2 separate regions of the Homo sapiens genome follow, and region 2 is linked to region 1. Evidence: fine-mapped expression QTL. A gene starts in region 1. The other region holds a variant in brackets. All regions are shown on one strand. Distances are between the middles of the regions.

Evidence for each region. PIP is the estimated chance that this variant, and not a neighbour inherited with it, causes the effect.
Region 2: its variant is the best candidate, but not a certain one, in a credible set for the expression of SOS2 in whole blood (GTEx, PIP 0.69).

What each region holds. Positions count from the first base shown.
Region 1 is chr14:50,229,733-50,234,122 of GRCh38, forward strand. SOS2 (SOS Ras/Rho guanine nucleotide exchange factor 2) reads right to left here and starts at 1,846. Exons shown (of 23, transcript NM_006939.4): 1 at 1,465-1,846. The coding sequence starts at 1,551. RefSeq lists a silencer at 1,438-2,517 and an enhancer at 2,668-2,757.
Region 2 is chr14:50,100,031-50,104,420 of GRCh38, forward strand. The region is part of intron 1 of LINC01599 (long intergenic non-protein coding RNA 1599); the gene reads right to left. It also overlaps a transcript of VCPKMT not described here. Among named protein-coding and RNA genes, the nearest start is that of LINC01599, 2.8 kb to the right of the region's middle. The variant CA/C (reference allele first, on the strand shown) is at 2,495.

The sequences.
Region 1 (4,390 bases):
ACCCAAATACTATTTGCTACCAGAAAGTTATAAATGGGTATATACCTGCGTCACATTGCCAACAATATAGGCCTACCTGATTACTGCACTCACACTTGTCTGTGGTCAAAGGGCTAATTACTATCTAGGCATTTCCCCCTTTGCTTTTAATTCAGGCCAGAGTTCATTTTCACCACTCAGCACACTTTTCATTTCTTTCCCTCTCCTTACAGAATTGGGCTGCACATGGAAGTAAGGTCAATTTAATACTTTAGCACTTGGTATACCAATGGAATAACTGTCTAGCTGCCACTAGTCATTTCTGCCAGGTTCTTTAAAAAGATACGACTTAGTGTTTGCCCTGAGGAAAGCAATACTTCCTTGTAAGAATTATGAAAATAAGGGAAAATCTGCAACTCTCATCGCATGAGGAAAATGTCTTTAACTTTAAAATACACTACTTCCTTTCATTTATAGAAATTTAATGTCTGAGGATATATTTTCCAAGTATAGTCTTTTAAATTAATCTTTATTTTTTCCTTATTTTAGAATGTATTCTTGGTTATTTTGCACAAAAGGCAGAAGAGACTAAGTCTGCATTAACGGCAAAGAAAGAAAGCCCCTGCTCAACAGGCATGACAGCTGATCACGCACCTATTCACAGTCTTTAAATGTCTTGATCTTACAGAAGGATTTATTATAAAAATGATCGTATGGTTACTACCTAAATTCACAGAGGAAGACCGCCACCATCTACAGGAAAGATGCACCCTAGCAATGCACCCAAACATGAAAGACTGATTTGCAGGAGTTGCCCCTTTCTTGTTCCTTAAAATGATTTCAAGTCCTAAATCGCAATTTGGTCGTGAAGACACTGAAGACACTGACCAAATTTTCTAAGGGTAATCTCTTGTAAACAGGTAAGACACCGTTTGCAGGAAGTGGGAAGGCGCTTTAAATTTACCTTGAGAACTGTAAAATGAATAAGAATATTATGACTCACTGACATTTCACACATGTGAAACATCCATATTACAAAAAACCATTGCCTCATAAGTGGATACCCTTGACAAGCAAACCGCCTAGGGGGAACACTCCCAAAGAACTTAATTAAAAGTAATTACCCGGCCTGAAAATGTGCTTTTGTTTTAGAAACTGTCTAAATACCAGCGGGACTTTCTCTTGCCCGATTCCAGCCTGAGGACAACAAATTGGTCAACGGCGGAAGTTGCCTGACGAAATGACTGCAACATGAAATCCAGTTTTATGATCATAACAAAACCTTCCTTCCGGGACCAGGCAAAAAAAAAAAACTTGAGAAACGTCCTTCAGAATGCAACAGGCAATTGTGAGCCCCCCATTGCCAGCCAACGAGAAACGGCTCGGCCCCGGGGACTCGAGCCCTGTGGGAGGGACGACCTGCTCCCCGTTAGAAGCTCGGGGGGCCACGGGCCACCCGCCGGCCGCCCCGCCCCTAGCACTGACCTTCCGCAGGGCCGAGACCAACAGTCCCCGCCATTTCGGACTGTTCTCCTCGCTGAAGAACTCGTAAGGCTGCGGCGCCTGCTGCATGGCCCCGGCGACAGCGCCTCCGCATCGGGGGCAGCCCGCGGGCCGGGCCGGTGGCCTGACAGGCAGGGCGCGGGCCGCCTCGCCTCGCCGGCGGCCGCCGCCTCCCGCCCGGGCCGAGGCTACGGCCGAGGCGGCTCGGAGGCGGCGCCGGCGGGCTGGCGGAGACCCCGGGGTCGGCTTCCTCCGCCGAGGCGGCCCTCGCCTCCCGCAGCGCCCGCAGAGGAAGCGCGGCGACCCGCAAGCCCGGGCGACCCCGGGCGGCGACCTCCTTTCCCGGCGGCGCTGGCCCGCTTCTGGGGCGGCTCCTCCTCCTTTGTCTGGGTTCGCGGCCCGTCAGGGGTACAGCTGGCCCAGCCCCGCCCCGACTCCCGCTACGGCCGCGGCGGGCGGTGAGCAGCGGCGGCGGCGGCGGCGGCTGCTCGTCTCCTCATCGCCTCCTCCCCGCCCTCCCAGCCGACAGCGCCGCCCGGCCCTGCCCACTCGAGTCACCTCCACAGAGCTCTGGGGACCGACCCGGAGTGCGCGTCGGGCGAGCGAGCCTCGCTATGGCGCGCACAGCGCTGGCCGCCGTTGCTGCCCCTTTAGCAGCAGCGCAGAGTGCCTTGGGGTCGCCGCTGAGCCCTGAGTCCCAGCAGCCGAGGCTCGGCCCGCCCCCTCGGCCCGGCGCTCATTATCCCGAATAGCCCAAGAGGCCTAACACGGAGCATGCGCGCCGCGGAGCAGGCACAGGCGCCAGCCCGGCGCGGGGGTGCGGGGCCTGGGGCCCCGGGGGAGTCCGCTTTTCCCGAGACTGTGCTGGGGGCCGCTCCAGACTCTTCAGTTTGACTGCTTTTTACCCATATGCTCCCTCCTCTCGACCTGCTTAAGACAATCCGGACTCGGTGCCACTCTTGTAGCGCTGGAGCCCCAGGACTACCGTCGTGGGAGGCTGCATAGGGACGTGGAGAGAAAGGGGCATTCGGGCTGGACAGGATATTTAACGTATTTGTGCTCTACGTGGCTTGTTTTCATGAGTACCGTATGTTTACACAAAGTAGGTACTATATATAATATATCGTTAGGAGATACAGTAACTATTTCTTAGGGTGATGGTGTGGGGACCGAGAGATGAGGCGTGGAAAGCCCTTAGCCTGGTGGTAGGGTCAGAAGGGGCAGATGACAGTGACGTTGATCAAGCTTGAATTGAAAGGTCCTTCACTTGCACGGGCCCCTGTGCGTTCACAAAATCATATCGTTTTTACAAAACTTTCAAGATATTTTCGAATTGTTTTCTTAATCGTGTCATCCAAATTGTGTAGGCTTCAGGTCCTACAAAACCTGGATCGGCGTCTAGGAAACACTCATTAGCAACCCAGAAAAGATCCTGACAAGCTTTTCAATCCAAAGAGGCATAGGCTCTGGTAACTCATTACCACAAATTTCATCCCACTAAAGAGGCTGAGCACATTACTTTTAACAGGTTGTAAAGAAGATATTTTACTCCCTGTCCCTAGCCACCAGCAGTGAGAAAGGGAAAAGACGAACAGGGTACAAAAAATAAGTCAGTACTACAATTCAGTTCCGGCATCAGTAGCTGAGCAATTATTCTCCCCAAAACATGCACCACTTTTTCATTTGGGCAAAATCAGAATGGCAGAGTTGGAAAATAAGATTATTTTTCTAATCCACTAAAGTATCCACTAAATCAAGAACATCCTCTAATAAATGGCCATATCCATTCACATGTACTTGGGATAAAAGGTGGGATGGTAAAATGCTTGTATTTCTCCCATTAATGTTTCAGTCTGTGAGAGCGAAGACTTTGGCTTATATAGAGGGTCCTTACTTTTCTCTCCTGTTCCCAGACTCCAGCTATAAACTACTGTGATGTCAAACTACTAGACCATGTATGTTCTCTTTACTCATAGGAGAGTAAACTTGTTAGAAATCTCATTCTTGGCTAGGAATATCAGAAGGCTTTTCTGGGCCAAGTCAGGCCTGAAGACATATTTTGTTTAGCTAAGGCTGTATTTAAATTTAATTGTTAACATTTTAAAATCAAGAGGCTTCATATAAAAATGTATATTTTCAGCTTCTCTTGACAAAGATCTGGCAACACTGGGACCTACTGCATTCGTGCAAGAGAGTAATCAGCAGGCACCGGGTAGTGGCTGCCCTCTTTATAAAAATATGCCATCCATTTCCAGTTGGCTATACTTCCCACCTGGCACTCTTCACCCTTTTATGTAACTTGCCTAGTCTCTACAGGCATCTGAGTTCTGATGTCTGGGCTGAGCAAACAGAAATATGATCCACGTGCATGTGGAGGATAGTCCAAGAATGACAGCAGTAAAAAGTTTCCCATTCAGGGCCGGGCGAGGTGGCTCACACCTGCAATTCCAGCACTTTGGGAGGCCGAGGCGGGTGGATCACCTGAGGTCGGGAGTTTGAGACCAGCCTGACCAACATGGAAAAACCCCCTCTCTACTAAAAATAACAAAACTAGCTGGGCAAGGTGGCGCATGCCTGTAATTCTTAGCTACACGGGAGGCTGAGTCAGGAGAATCGCTTGAACACGGAAGGTGGAGGTTGTGGTGAGCTAGATCACGCCATTGCACTCTAGCCTGGGCAACAAGAGCAAGACTCCGTCTCAAAAAAAAAAAAGTTTCTCATTCAGACAAATGGGCTATCTAGAAAAAATGTTGGATCCATACCCTATACAATACACTAGCAAAAACTCCAGATATGTCAAAGATTTAAATGTAAACAATAAAACCATACAATGATTCATTTATAACCTCAGAACGGAAAAAGACACTTTCACTATGACACAAGATCTAAAAGACCGATAAATTCAATT
Region 2 (4,390 bases), 130 kb before region 1:
TACATAGGTAAACATGTGTCATGGTGGTTTGCTGCACCCATCAACCCATCACCTAGGTATTAAGTCCAGCATGCATTAAGCTATTTATCCTGATGCTCTCCCTCCCCACTGTTGAGGATCTTTTATGTCAGGCGTTGTTCCAGACTCTTTACACATAGGTCCTCAGTTTTGGGTTAACTGTGGAGAAACTCTAACAGCAACAAGCCATATTTCATTTGCTGTCCACTTTACAGTATTTTGCAGAGTCTCAGTGAACTTCTTTGCTAAGTTCTGTTCCTGCCCTCTGTGGCCTGCACTAGTCTGCTGCTTTGGGACTTTCGTGTTTTTGAAAGGGGACTATTTCTTTGTTTTTGCTTTTGGTATTGCATTCTGCTGGGAAGTATCAAACCAGTGATGCCCCATGCCTCATTAAAGCCTTACGGGACTTTTTTTTTTTTTTTTTTTTTTGATAAGAGTAACCTCTCAATTATTTTCCCCTATGGCCTCTCTCTTCCTATGACAAAGGTAGGGTCTAAAAGACATGGTGAAGATGTCTGGTTGGAACGTAACGGTAAACAACAGGCACACTGCTAAACTTGGAATCCTTCCTAACAACTGAGGATTGTTTTTCCTGGACCACTTATGTGTCATTTACTTGGGATGGTTTCTTGTACACCTCTCTAGTTTGCAAGAGTTTACCAGTCTGGATTCTCAGAACAAACAGTTTTGGCTTAAGCTGAGGAGACTGCTTTCTTAAGTATGGTCTCCATACATTATCTAGTTTAACCATCACCACAATGTTAGCCAGTAGATATTCTCATTTTACAGAAAGGGAAAGTAACATGCAGAGTTTAACTTGCCCAAGGACATACAGGTAGATTAGGTGGTAATCAAGTGAGCTGTTTTCTCATAAAGCTTGGGAGCATAAAGGGAAGGCGATTGGATTTAGAACTGAACTGGAACTGTCTTCCAGGGCTAACTGGGAATATTGTTCCTACCAGCCAAACTATGCCTCTCCTGTTCTTTGGACTCTCAGGTTAACAAGCAGACATTTCACAGGGAACAAGAGTAACAGACTGACTGTGGGTGTCAGATACATGTTTGAGAGTGAAGAGTTTTGAACAACAGAATTTTTTAAAATATCCATCCACTGCAGTGGCTCACAGCTGTAATCCTGGCACTTTGAGAGGCCGAGGTAAGATGACTGCTTGAGCCCAGGAGTTCAAAACCAGCCTGGGCAACACAGTGAGACCCTGTCTCTACAAAAAGAAATATTTTTTTAATTAGCCAGGCATAGTGGTATGTTGCCTGTAGTCCCAGCTACTGGGAGGCTGAGGCAGGAGGACCACTTGAGCCCAGGAGGTCGAGACTGTAGTGAGCTATGATCATGCCACTGCACTCTAGCCTGGGCAACAGAGTGAAACACACTCTCAAAAAAAAAAAAAAAATCCTTGTAACAAGATTTAGAAAGAAAATAGTTATTTTAAAAGCACATTACTGTACCTACATTCATAAATGTCACTGAAATCCAAAGATATTCTCTGGTTAAACATTTATTATTTGTGGGAGTGTGAAACTTGTTTTTCCTGTTTTTAAGTTTTAAGAAGCCAGTCCTTTGTTCCATGTGAATTATATGCCATGAGATTATTTACACTCATTCTAAACACAAGTGTAAAGCTTCTCATCTAAGCTTCGTATAAAAAAAAACAGTAATTTGTGGCTGGGCGCGGTGGCTCATGCCTGTAATCCCGGCACTTTGGGAGGCCGAGGCGGGCGGATCACCTGAGGTTGGGAGATTGAGACCAGCCTGACCAACATGGAGAAACCCTGTCTCTACTAAAAATACAAAATTAGCTGGGAGTGGTGGCACATGCCTGTAATCCCAGCTACTAGGGAGGCTGAGGCAGGAGAATCACTTGAACCTGGGAGGCGGAGGTTGCGGTAAGCCAAGATTGCGCCATTGCACTCCAGCCTGGGCAACAAGAGCGAAACTCCATCTCAAAAAAAAAAAGAAAATAGTAATTTGTATATGTAGCACCTCAGTACATTGCTGTACTGTGCATGAAGCACAAGCAGGTTATCAGGACACATTCCTTAAAAGAACAAGGTTGAGTACTGAATGTAGATACATGAGATTGTTTGTACTGTATACCTAAAACTCTGGCAATGATTTGTCAAACAATCATGAACCAACACAAGCACCTGGAACTCACATCGTTAATGCCTGGACTTCAGCAGATTAACAAATCTGAGTTAAAGGTAACTTTTAAAAAAACTACTCAAGGCCAGGTGTGGTAGCTCATCCCTGCAATTTGGGAGGCCAAAGCAGGCAGATTGCTTGAGCTCAGGAGTTTGAGATCAGCCTAGGCAACATGGCCAAACCCCATCACTACAAAAAATATAAAACTGAGCCGGTCATGGTGGCTCGTGCCCGTAATCCCAGCTACTCAGGAGGCTGAAGTAGGAAGATTGCTTAAACCTGGGAGGTGGAGGTTGCTGTGAGCCAAGATTGCAC[CA/C]ACTACACTCCAGCCTGGGTGACAAGAGTGAGACTCTGTCTCAAACAAACAACAACAAAAAACCCAAAAGCATTTAACAGCACTGACCCATCAAAAAGCTGTCAGTGGTACCTCATTAGAACTAATAACCTGAAAGGAATTTGTTAACTACTCAAACGTTTAAGCCTATAAAAACTGCATCTAGGCCAGATCTTTTACAAACATTTTAATTTTGCTTTGCAAGGAAGAAATATCCTTGTTTTCAACCTGTGAAAATTAAAAAATGTGAATTAATTCAACAAAATAAGTTACTGTATTATAGGTAATGTATAAAGGTTTCTAAAAATGAAGACCACCTATTGAGTATTCATGACAATATTTTCCATTAATTGCAAACAGAAAGGCCTTGCAAGTTTAATATAACGCAGAAGCAGAAAGCAAGTTTGTCCAGCCCACTGCTCATGGGCCGCATATGGCCCAGGACATCTTTGAACGTGGACTAACACAAATTCGTAAACCCTCTTAAAACATTATAAGATTTTTTTGCAATTTTTTAAAAACTCATCAGCTATCACTAGTGTATTTTACGCATGGCCCAAAGGCAATTCTTCTCCTTCCAGTGTGGCCCAGGGAAGATTGCACACCCCTTCTGAAGTAAAGCCTATGTGCCACTTTACACTGGCTGATGGAGAAACAGACACAATCCAAGGTTTTGTCATTCTTGTCTGTTAGTAAAAGACATGGTCAGTTAGCCTGAGGAATTAGTTAAGTCCTGCATCCCACACACGCACTCATTACACAGTGAAAGATTATTTAGGCAAGAAACAACTGCTACAAACATATTTTAAAGTCACATTGCTCTTTTAGAGTTAATAAATATAAACTCTGAAAATATTGTTATGCAGATAGATCAAGTCTCAGACTTCAGAAAAATGACTTTCTGCTGTACTTTAATGGCCTGCTACCCATCTGGTCTCAGGTTTAGCAAAGAACCGTGGAAGGAGGAATTGAGTAAGGGTCCAGGGCGGTGGAATGTTAATCCTGGAGCTCCAGCCAGCAAACCCAGGCTCCCATATTTAGAAACGAGGATTTGCTCTGTCCCTATTGGCCTTCGAATGCTCGTGGCAGTTGCTTTCAAACTGTAAAAATGAACAGTGAACAAAAATTTTCTTCCCCGTATCTTCTTTATTTTTCTAAGATTGTTATTTGTTTAAATAACAGTACATGTTGTGTAACAATGTTCTCAACTTCCTCCCATCCCAGCTGCCATTCCCACCGTGACTGGGCAGCAATGTTTACATGCATCCTATACTCTCAAAAAGGTGCCCAGATTTCACACTGCAACAGATAAAACTGACTTGCATTATGCATATTTTCCAAGTGCCCACCTGTAATTCCACCCCAACTACGGTCACATTTATTGAACACTTACTATGTGCCTAGTACCTAAGTACATTACATGTATTTGACTAATTTAATCTCCACAGCAACCTATAAGATATTATGATCTTTACCTTACATATGAGGAAACTGAGGCACACAGAGTTTAAGTAACTTCAAGGTCACACAGCTAGTAAGTGGCAGCACTGGGATTCAAACCCAGATAATCTGGTCTCAGAGCCTCTGTGCTGACACTGTTTTCAGAATGCACGTGAGCAAAATATTATCATGGAGATAATCTGCTGTACCATATTTTAGGTTTATCATTTGCAAATGATAGCATCTTGTCATTAATAATCAATGACTTAGAATGTATCTCACAGTTGATAGGGACTCACTAGATATTCACAGAACTTCACCAACACATAAGAACTTCAATGTCTTGAACAACCCCAAATATCTAATGGTTTAAACTTTAACTGGTGAAAATGCCTTGAGAATTTATTGCTTTCCTACCCAATATTATGGAAAGTAAA